2 separate regions of the Homo sapiens genome follow, and region 1 is linked to region 2. Evidence: fine-mapped expression QTL. A gene starts in region 2. The other region holds a variant in brackets. All regions are shown on one strand. Distances are between the middles of the regions.

What was found.
Region 1: its variant is fine-mapped to the expression of CPA5 in whole blood (TOPMed, PIP above 0.99).

Annotation. Positions count from the first base shown.
Region 1 is chr7:130,366,441-130,371,791 of GRCh38, reverse strand. It overlaps CPA5 (carboxypeptidase A5), which reads right to left. Exons shown (of 13, transcript NM_080385.5): 11 at 4,221-4,420; 12 at 3,802-3,886; 13 at 3,062-3,382. The coding sequence ends at 3,195. LOC105375504 (a long non-coding RNA gene) reads left to right here and starts at 4,665. Exons shown (of 2, transcript NR_133928.1): 1 at 4,665-4,962. The variant T/C (reference allele first, on the strand shown) is at 3,374.
Region 2 is chr7:130,341,892-130,347,258 of GRCh38, reverse strand. It overlaps CPA5 (carboxypeptidase A5), which reads right to left and starts at 2,443. Exons shown (of 13, transcript NM_080385.5): 1 at 2,054-2,443; 2 at 1,363-1,420; 3 at 658-866. The coding sequence starts at 773. The region is part of intron 1 of LOC105375503 (a long non-coding RNA gene); the gene reads left to right. LOC124901837 (small nucleolar RNA U13) reads right to left here and starts at 2,844; the gene lies at 2,741-2,844. RefSeq lists an enhancer at 282-1,251.

The DNA.
Region 1 (5,351 bases), 25 kb before region 2:
TGAGGTCAGGAGTTCGAAACCAGCCTGACCAACATGGAGAAACCCTGTCTCTACTAAAAATACAAAATTAGCCAGGCGTGGTGGCACATGCCTGTAATCCCAGCTACTCGGGAGGCTGAGGCAGGAGAATCACTTGAACCCGGGAGGCAGAGGTTGTGGTGAGCCAAGATCGCACCATGGGCAACAAGAACAAAACTCCGTCTCAAAAAAAAAAAAAGAAGACCTCCATCTGGACAGCAGTTTCAGCCTCAACTTTTGTGAGCTTAATGGCTGTACAGAGATCTGGCCAAGCTGGCTGTGAGAACAAGTTCCTCATCCCTGATCCTGCAGAGCCTTGGCCGTGAGTTGGGTTCAGGTTCTGAAGGCAGATGATGAGCTACCAGCCTGCAGGTCAGCCCAAACCCTGCCACTCAGGACCTGTGTGCCTTTCAGCAACCATCCTGTCTGAGCCTGAGTCACCTCCTTGGCTGAAAATAAGGACAGTAATAGTCCTGCCTCTGAGAGCTGTGAGGAGGCGACATGTTGAAACCCCTAATGCACTTGGCACCGTGCCTGGCACATTGTAAGTGCTAGAAAAGAGTTTATTTCGGCTTGGGAAGCTCATCAGAGCCCAAGGCCTCCTGCCCCTAGGCCAGTTCTTGTCCAATTTGGCATTCAAATCTCCTAGGCCCCACCCACTAGAGACTTGGATTTAGTAGGGCTGGGACTAAGCTCCCAGGTGATGTGATGCCTGTGGTCTGCAGACCACACTGCTTTAGGCTAGGGCCAAGGCAGCCCCCAGGAAGTACTCTAGAGAATGACTGGCCTCCCTCTGTGGCAGCCACCTCCAGCCCCAGTGGACAATGGCAGAGTGGGGAGACCCAAGGCCCAACTCCCCCCGGAAGACTGGAATATATTCTTCCCGGGAGGCAGGGGAACAGGGGTCAGTGGGTATTTGAAGATACCTCAGAACTCCTTGGGCAGTTGGTAAAAATGCAGATTTGGGGTGTCTGCCCCCAGATATTCTAATTCGGTCTGGAGATGGAACCAAATCCCTTCCTGTTAAACAAGTCTCCACGGATTCTGCTGCAGATGGGCCACCGGCTGCACTTGGACAAATGGTGACAGTGGTTTTGGAGTTTGACAAACCCAAGTTCAAATCTTTCTCAACAATTTTCTCTCCATTGTGGCCTTGTATGGCTTTTGAAACATCTCCGAACCTTGCTTTCCTTATCTAAAACAATGAACTTATTAATACCAGGAATACCCTCCCCAAGAGGATGAAATAAAAATAAAAATATTTGTATCGACAGCATAAAAGTTATAATCACAGACTCCACTGTGCAAAGGTATAACTGGCTTTATTTACCTCTAGCTTATATTAACTTAGCCCATGACCTCGAATTTCCACTAGCAGCAGAAAACTTTGGGTTGGAAATTCTAGCTCACTCAGACCAATTCCAGCTTTAAAAAAAAAAAGTCTCCTGTGGGAAACTTCAGCCAAAGTCAAGATTTTCTCCTCCTCTGCTGCTGGCTGTTCCCCTGAAGATGATCTGGGTTGTTCAGGGGTTAATTACCCTCACTTCCTCAGGGCTTCTATGTGGCACAGCTGGCCTTGGGCATCTGCATGCCCAGCCAATGCCCAGCCAGTGCCTGCTGTGCCACCATGACCACTGGCTGCACAGCCCCAGGTTTGGCCTTCTGGCCTCTATCCTAGGCCTCCTCACCTGCCAACCTTGTTTCTTTGCTCAGAGCTCTCCACAGCTGCACCAGCCCCATGGCTGCCTCTAATCCTCTGTCTAGTCTCCTTCTTCGGCCATTAGTCATTTGCTGCTTAGACACTATATTGGATATGAACCTTACTTGGGGTTTTGATCATCTCCCATCCCCTTCTTCTACCAAATGGCCCAAGCACTATCTCCTTTCACAGGCTGAATGGAAAGGGAGGCTAAGTTCATATACACTAGAGATAAATAAAGCAAGTTATGCCTTTACACAGTGGAGTCTGTGATGATAACTTTTATGCCTTCTACACAAATATTTTTGTTTCACTCTGTTTTCTTCCCTGTCTCCGTGCCCTCCAGGGGTTGGCTCTTGGCCATCCAGTTTTACACACACACACACGGACACACACACGCACATGCACACACGTGCACACACATGCACACACACACACGCACACACACAAACACACACACAGCCTGGCTCTTGCAAATGCAAGTCTTGCTCTCACGACTAATGTTTCTGCCTCAGACTTACACAACCTCATTTGGCTCTTCCTGTTTCTAGGGGTTATCTGCCTTCCTGAGGGCAGAGCAAACAGCCCTGCTATCCCTGCTGCATAGTACAGCCTGCCAGTCCCATCATTTCCCAGAAGGCAGCAGACAGAATGAAGAGGCAAAAGGTACAAGGAGGCCTGGGGCTGGGGGAAGGAGTCTTCTTAGTATCTCACGAGTGCCCCTTTAACTCTCTTAGGGGAAGTGCCTACTTAACACAGCTCAGGGATGACAACCAGGATGGTGTCGCTGATGATGATGATGAGAAGCTCTTCTTCCTGGATATGCGGTGCTTTGATGTGCTGGCTCTGACTAGCTCTGACCCTGTGTTCCCAAGACCCAGGGAGCCTTTGAGGACACCTCGGGGGGAGCAGGTCATAAGCCAATGACTCATTCGTGTTGGGTTGTGGGGTGAGTGGTAACCTCCAAAATGTGCTCCTGCTCCCTCCCTGCATGGGAAGTGAAGCCAACCGAGGCAGAGGTGGCCTGTCTGGGCCAACCTTTCCCTCAAGGTGGCAGAAATGCCCCCATCAGAAATGCTCTTTTAGAGCAAACATTGTCCCCTCCAGGAGCATCTTAAAATGTAAATATGCTGGGACAATGTGTGCCTTCTGTGTTCCGGGCCCTGAAAACACTGCAAGAGGAGAAAAGCTACAGCCTCTACCCCCTTATTTTCCTGAAGGTAGACTGGAGAGTGCAGAGGCTTCCCCCACATTTCAGGCTCCCCTGCGGAATGAGAAGCAGCCTCTCGTCCCCTTGTCAGTGCTGAGCCCATAGGGGTGGTAGCCAACACGAGAGGCAGCGAAGCCTGTTCAAACTTGTATTTATTTTCTAAGAGGTCGGGATGAGGGCATGGGGATGGGGATGCATAACTTGGGTTTCGGGAGGAGCCACAGACCTTGGGGAGAAGGATGGAGCCTCCTGCCCTCAGTCGTGCTGCTAGTAGGGGTGATTCAGGGTGTGCTCCATGATGGTCCGAAGCGCCATCCACGTCTCCTGGGCCGTGGGGATGATCTGTGTGGCCGGCAGCAGGAAGCCATACTGCCCAGTGTCCCGGAGCTCAAAGCTGAAGGCGTACTTGATGCCACTGTCATAGGCCCAGTCGACGGTGATCCCAC[T/C]GGCCACATCTAGAAACAAAAGTTCCAAAATGTGCCCCACAAAAGGAAGAAGGGGATGTGGCTGCAAGGTACAGAGGCATCCTGGGTGGAAAGTGAGCCCTGGGAGCCAAACCCCCACCCACCCCAGGCCACACCAGGCTTCCTGCCCAGGCCTCAAACAGGATCACATCTGTGCACCCAGCCCATTCTCTACTCCTGCAAAAAGAAAGCTCCTGCAGGCTACTAGGCTTAGGAACCTTGCAGTAAGCCAGGCACTGGGAGCTGTGCACAAAAGCTGCCAAGAAACAGCTCCCTGGGTACCACTGTTCACCCTTCTATCCAGTGTGGGAGGCAGCTTTGGGCCAGCACAGCTAGATCCTTGGCACTGCCCTGCAGCCAGCCCCAGGTAGATGTGGTGTCTGAAGCAGGGCCAGGGGAGGCTCACTCACAGAGGGTGGTGCTGATGCTGCCAAAAATGTACTCGATCCCATGGACCTTATACAAGGCCTCCACCGCATCCTTGGCAAGATCGTACTGCAAGATGACATTGGCGGGGTGAAAGGCAGGGGCTCCCCGGGGCTCCCACACACTCCCCCACCCTCACCAGCTGGTGAGAAGCATGGATTTAGCAGTCCTGGAAGTTGAAGGTGGAGATGGCCCTTGTGAGAAGGGAGCACAGCATTTCCAGCTTTGAACTTGATCACACGTGAGAACAGCAAGCTCCCCCTACCCCACCCCCGCACCATGGGGTCAATCAGCCCAGACCCCTGCATTCAGAGTAACAACCTGAGCCCTCTGGGAGTATGACAGATATGGATTTTCCTGTGAAGCGGTCTCTTCTCCCCAGGCCCTAAGCAGCCAGTCTCACCAACTCCCTCTGATTTGAAACGGGCTCCAGCAATCGGCCGTAAGGGTACATAAGCATCTGAGAGTAGCTGTGGATGGAGATCAGAGCCTTGAAGTTGCCATGGGCTGTGATGAAGTTCACTATGGCAGCCACCTCCGGCTCCGACTGAGGGGAGGGCCCGTGATAAGTTTCTGAGCAGGGGTTGCTGTTAGAACCATTTCCTGGAAGTAAAATAAAGCCACCCAAAGAGTCAAATCCCCACGTGCGACACAGACGGTGCTCACAAAATACCTGTGTGTTCCCCTACATTTCCCAGCCTCCTTTGCAGTATGACTGAGGTCATGTGACTACTTTGACCAATGGAAAGGTGAGCAGAAATGACACGGCACTTCTGGGTTGAGATTGTTAAGAGCAAGTGTGACTTCTCCATGCTCTTTTCTGTCTGTGTGGCTGGAAGCAAAAAAAAAAAATTCTAGATAGAAACAGCCTCCTGGATCCCTCTCTCACTGCGGAAGAAAGCCGCCAAGGAGAGTCACCTGTTCATGTTGGACTTTGTGTGCATGAAAAACAAACTTTCATTGTGTTAAACCACTGAGATTGGGATGGATATTTGTTACTGCTGCATCCTCTAATCTAATATGTCAGAGGACTGCAGCCGCACCATACCCTGCAGTTCTGAAGCCCTGCAGGGAGCCCCCTCGGCTTGTCCTGTGGTCCCTTTAGGAAGGTGGGCCTGGCTCAGAAGTTGCATCCAGAGGAAACTGTAAGTCTCTGCCCCAACCCTGGCTTCCCCTAGTGAGCAGCAAATGCCTTTAGGCTGACCGTTCCTGGGTGTGCCATCAGTTGAGGGCTCAGACTCGGTGTCAGCTGAAGCTTTGCCACAGCCATGGCCCCAGGTGCGCCATGAACTTGGGGTCTGGGGATATGGGAAACCAATACGGGAGAATAGTTCCCCATAGTTGCCTGAGGCTGTTCTGGGAGCCAGAGGTGCAAAGAAGTCTTTGAAAATTCTTCTTGGGGACTTAAGATGAGGGAGAGAACAAAGAGGAGCAGGGCTTTTATTCTTTTCCCAAGTTTCATTTGTTTCCATTTCCCCCTGGACTCTTTGCCTTCGCCCCATCTCTGTCTTCCTCTTCTGCTCCTCCTCTGCTT
Region 2 (5,367 bases):
CCTTCCCGATGGAGGTGAGTGGAGGTTGCGTATCCAAGAGGCCTGTGGTGTGGGCTCTGGGGTGCGACACCTGGGATGGGGTTGGTGCCCTCACAGGCTGGCTCTGAGACCGTGGGTGAGGAACCCCATCTCTACGCTCGCTGTGTCTCCTCTTCTCTACTGTGGAGCACTGTGGGGCATCCACCTGTGGACCTTGGAGAGGCTCAAAGTACATCCACAGAGGGCCTGGCGTGTAATACTAGAACTTCCTGTCATTCGAAGGAGAACGACACCCACATCCATTTTTGGTAGGGGTATGTAGTCTTGTGGGGGCTACAACTTCTCTGAGAATCGGAGGAAAGCTATGAATGCATCCTCCCCGAAGAAGCCCCTGTTGTATAGGAAAACTGTTGCATGTGGTTTCAGGGGATTCTTGGAGCCCCGGGGGCTTCCTCCTGGACTCTGGATTAAGAACTCTGGATTTGGGGAGGACCACCAACGAGCCAGCCCCGGAGCATGAAAGTGGGAGGCTGTGGAGCTGGAAGTGGGTTCAGGACAGGAACCCACATCCTGACTCTCCGCCTTGATCAGGCACCAGCAGGGCAGCCACCTCCTGCTGGGACACCCAGTCCCCTCCTCCCAGCCAGTCCTCCCTCCCACTGTGGAGCAGCCACTCACCCTGTGAAATTCATTTGGCCCAAAGCTGCTGCCAGGATAAAGCTGAAGACCAGGAGTGTCCGCCTGTCCACGGGGGATGGCCCAGGGCGCGTCCCGCCTCCAGGGGTGCCCTGCATGCTTCTTCCTCCTGGTGAGCTTCAGGGGCTTTCCTTGGGCACCATGGCCCAGGCCTCAGGACAGCACAGCACCTAGAGGCTGGAAAGCCCAGCCTGAGAAAGAGCATTAGGCTGTCTGGGGCACCCAGCATGTGGCTCCCACATGCCAGGCCTTGGGAGAGCTAGGGCTGCCCCTCCCCAACCCAGCACATCCTCTCCTGGGAAGGGGAGAGGGAAGAGAGAAGGAGGAAGACAGGCCTTAGCTTTTCTTTTCTCTCAGGAGGTTTGCCAGGGCAGCCCCTTGTGAGCATCAAAGCTTCCATCTCTGGAGAAAGACCAAAGTAGCCAGCAGCCCTGGGATACCCCTCCTTTCCTCCCTCCTCTACAGCATCTTCTCTTTCGCTCTTCTTCTCCGCCTAGCCCACTCATGCTTTCCCTGGGCCATATCCTCCTTACACATAAGGTGTGGATGCCATTGAAACACCGCTGGACTTAGAGACAGAGACTGGGTGCTCACTTCCCGTCTAAAATATCTGGGGCAGCTGCCCTAATCTCTAAATCTCAGTTTACTCATCCATCAAATGGGGTTAATCATACCTCCCCTCCCTACCTCACAGGGTTTGAAGGGGTATAGATGAGACAACTTGAGTGAATTGGCTTGGTAAAGCCTGCAAAATGCAATGTATTATTATTCAAAAGGCATTAACTTTTAGTCACAGCTGCATTTGAGATCAGTCCTCCAGTGGCGATGGGGAGAAGGGGAAGAGAAGAGAATGGAGAGGAGAACAAAGGAAATAACTATATATTGTATGAGAAGGAATTCAATCAAGATTCCCTTTTCTCTGTCTTCAGGTGGTCATCATTGTGCTAGCACAGACAGTGGGTTTTCTGCTAGACATGAAGGTCACCGCAGTCATTATTAGAGTTCTCAACAGACAGCAGAGTCAATTTCTCAGTCCTGCTGAAGCCCCACACAGTTCCCTTTATAGTTTGGGAATAGCAGGAGTAAAGCAGGGGCCAGCACACAAAGCAGTCATGTTGGAAGGAGAAAGTGAAAGATGATGCCTGAATGGCAAATGATGAATCTAACAGAAAATCCACAGGGGGTGGGGGTAAGGCAGAAGCTGAATCCAACCAAGTCGTTCAGCAGAGGACGTCAACAATAGGCCACTTAACTGTCACTGGCGATTCTCAGAAGCTCCCCCTCCCCATCCAAACTATCTCAGAATGGCCGATTAACTGGCTATGTGTGCAAAGAAGGGAGCTCGTTTATCGACAGAACGCCCTGCTCCCCCACCCACCTGCCCTACTCCATTATTTCGTAGTTCAGCTGTTCAGACAAGCCAGACTCTTCTAGTATCCTGGCTTCAGGGACTCTCAAACAGTAACATTATCAAAGGGTTTAAGGACATAGAAAAGAAAGCAGTTATGCTTTCCACCCAAGTAACATTCAGCTTCAGTAGCAATGGAGATAAAAGGGTGTACTGCTAAACAATAGCTCAGGAATTTAAAAGGAAAAAAACAGAGATAGTGCTAGTCACCAAAAGTACCCATGGGGCGTCTTCTTGTTCAAAAACATCATTTTAAGCCACCAATGATGAGACAACTATCCCTGTACTTGGCTTAAGGGTGGGAAAAGAGAGAGAGTGAGAGAGAAAGAATAAGAGTAAAAGAGAGAGAGAGAAGCAGTTAGGAAGTTTTGAGAATTCTATGACATAGCTTCCAATAGAACTTTCTGTGATAATGGAAATATTCTATGTCCACACCCCCCAGTAGGATAGCCACTAACCTCTTGAAATGTGGCTATTGTGGTTGAATATTGATTTTGGAGTTGTATTTAACTTTAATTAATTTAAATAAAATTTAAATAGCCACATGTGGCTAATGGCTACCATATTGGACAGCAGAGTTCTCTGGGAATTCACCAACCCTGAAAGCACCATCTCCAATGGCTGGATTTGTTTTTGGTTTTGCTTCTTCTAAGTTCATGTTAGACGGGTAATGTGCTGACGTCATAACAAGGTTTGAGGGTGACACATCTCACACACGCATGCGTGAGCACCCAATTATCATACTTATGAACTGCAATTATCAGCTTATGGCTGGATTTGAAGCGGAGACACATAGCTATGCTTGACCTAATACCTCATTTTGGCTTTTCACTTATAATTAATTACTCACCTAATCATTTACTCAGTAAATGTCCTCTGAATACCTGCTATGTTCCAGGCACTTGCTAAAGTCTGGAAACAAAATAGAAAGCAACACATATCTGGCCCTTACATTTCTAAAGGCGTAAGTAGAAAATTAATTTAAATAGCATGAAGATAATTGGTAAACCCAAGACATAATGGTAGCCCATCTCACTCCAGATAAGTGTAAAACTATAGATGGTGTTTGTGTTACAAGGGAAAGGCACATTGTACCATGAGGACGGGGAACATGGGCTCCACATAGACTGAAGGAGAGTTTCCCTAAATTAGAAATTTTTTTGGAGGACTTTTATTTCCTGCAGGTGGGGTGGGTTAGATACCTAAGCAATCTTGCCCAAATGAAAGAACTCAAATGCAGAAGAAAATATTTTTAGTAACAACTTTCTAAAGCCATTGCTGGGTTGGCACAAAAATAAGAATCTATAGATCCCAAAAAGAAGGAAAAGCCAGACAGACACCCAAGTGGTAAGCAAGTTTTGCCTCAGAGAACTTCTCAGAATGCTGGTGTTCTTGATTTTCCTACTGGATGCATGTACCATGTATCTAGAATCATCTTCCCTCTGCTTCAAATCTATCTTTTCAAACCTTCCTTTAGTTAAGGTTTCTGTTTTTACTTATTTGAAAATTTTTGGCCAGGTATGGCAGCTCACATCTGTAATCCCAGTGCTTTGGGAGGCCAAGGCAGGAGGAGCCCAGGAGTTCGCTTGAGCCCAGGAGTCCGAGACCAGCCTGGGCAAGTCAGGGAGACCCTATCTCTGCAAAAATAAAATAAAATTAGCTGGGCATGGTGAGGCACGCATCTGTAGTCCTAGCTACTCGGGAAGCAAGCAAGCAGATCAACTGAGCCCAGGACTTTGAGGCTGCAGAGAACCATACTCCAGCCTGGGTGACAGAACAAAAACCTATCTCAAAAAAAAAAAAAAGAAAAAAAGAAAAAGAAAAGAAATAAGGAAGGGAGGGAGGGAGGAAGAGAGGGAGGGAGGGAGAGAGGGAGGGAGCGAGGAAGGAAGGAAGGAAGGAAGGACAGACAGAAAAAAAAAGAAAGGAGAGAGGGAAAGAGAAAGAAAGGAAAAAAAAGAATAAAGAAAGAAGAAAGAAAAAAGAGAAAGAAAGAAAGAAAGAAAGAGAAGAAAGAAGGAAAGAAAAAGAAAGAAAAGAAGAAAGAAGAAGGAAGGAAGGAAGAAAGAAAGAAAGAAGAAGAAAGAAAGAAAGAAAGAGAAAAAGAAAGAAAGAAAGAAAGAATTATTTTGCTCTCATTCTTGAAAGGGTTTTTTGGGATAGAAATTCCAAGTTGATTACTGTTTTCCTCTCAACACATTGAAAATATTATCCCACAGTCTTCTGGCTTCCATTTTTGCTGCTAAAAGGTAATGTTTGTTGACTTACTGTTCTTCAGAAGGTGACCTCTCTTTGTTCCTGGTTTCTTTGAAGAGCTTCTCTTTGCTTTTGATGTTCCACAGTTTTATCATCGTAAGTCCAGGTATGGATTTTTTTTGTTTTGTCTTGCTTGAGAATCATTTGAATTCCTGTATCTGAGTGTCACTCGCTTTCTATTATTTTCCAAATTTCTCAGCCATTATATTTTTAAACATTGCCCCTTTTCCTCTCTATTACCTTCATCTGGAACTTTTGACTGGACCTCCTCATTCTAGCCCCCAAGACTCATAAGCATTCTGCTATATTTCCATTGTGTGGTCTCTCTGGGCTACATTCTGGATAATTTATTAGTAAAAAATATTTTTGTCTTTATTCCAGTTACCTGATTCTTCATTGGCTGAGTTTAATCTGCAATTTAATTGATCTGTGAAGTTTTACCTTTCAATTGCTACGGTTCATTGATTCTGCAACCTATTTTTTTCACATTTTTAACACTGCTAAAATCAGGATACATCTTACAATTGGTGGCATCTTGCAATGCTAAGGTGGCACATAAAATTATGGTGCATCTTATAAAATTGATCCTGTTTTATAGTCAATGCAATATGATATTCATTTTTCATTTTTGGAAGTTCTATTTGATTCTTTTTTTCTGATTCAAGCCCAAATGACTTGAATTTCTTATCTATTTTAGAATTTCTTATTTCTTTAAACGTATAAGACAGATATTTTATATTCTGTGTTAGATAATTACAATTCCTAGATGTTTTAAGTCTGTTTCTGCTGCCTATTCTTTCCGCTGGTTCTCACTCATGGTGCATTTTCTCTCATGCCACATACCTGTGAACCAATCATTTTCCTTGAACATTTATCTGTGAGAATCCCTTGAGGCCTGGGTTGAAGGTGGGTTCTTCCAGAAAAGATTTGCGTTTACTTCTGTAAGTTGCTGGGGACACTACCAACCTGCGACCACTCTAAATTAAATAATTTAAGATTTTTTTGGGGGACTGCATAGTTAGCATAAA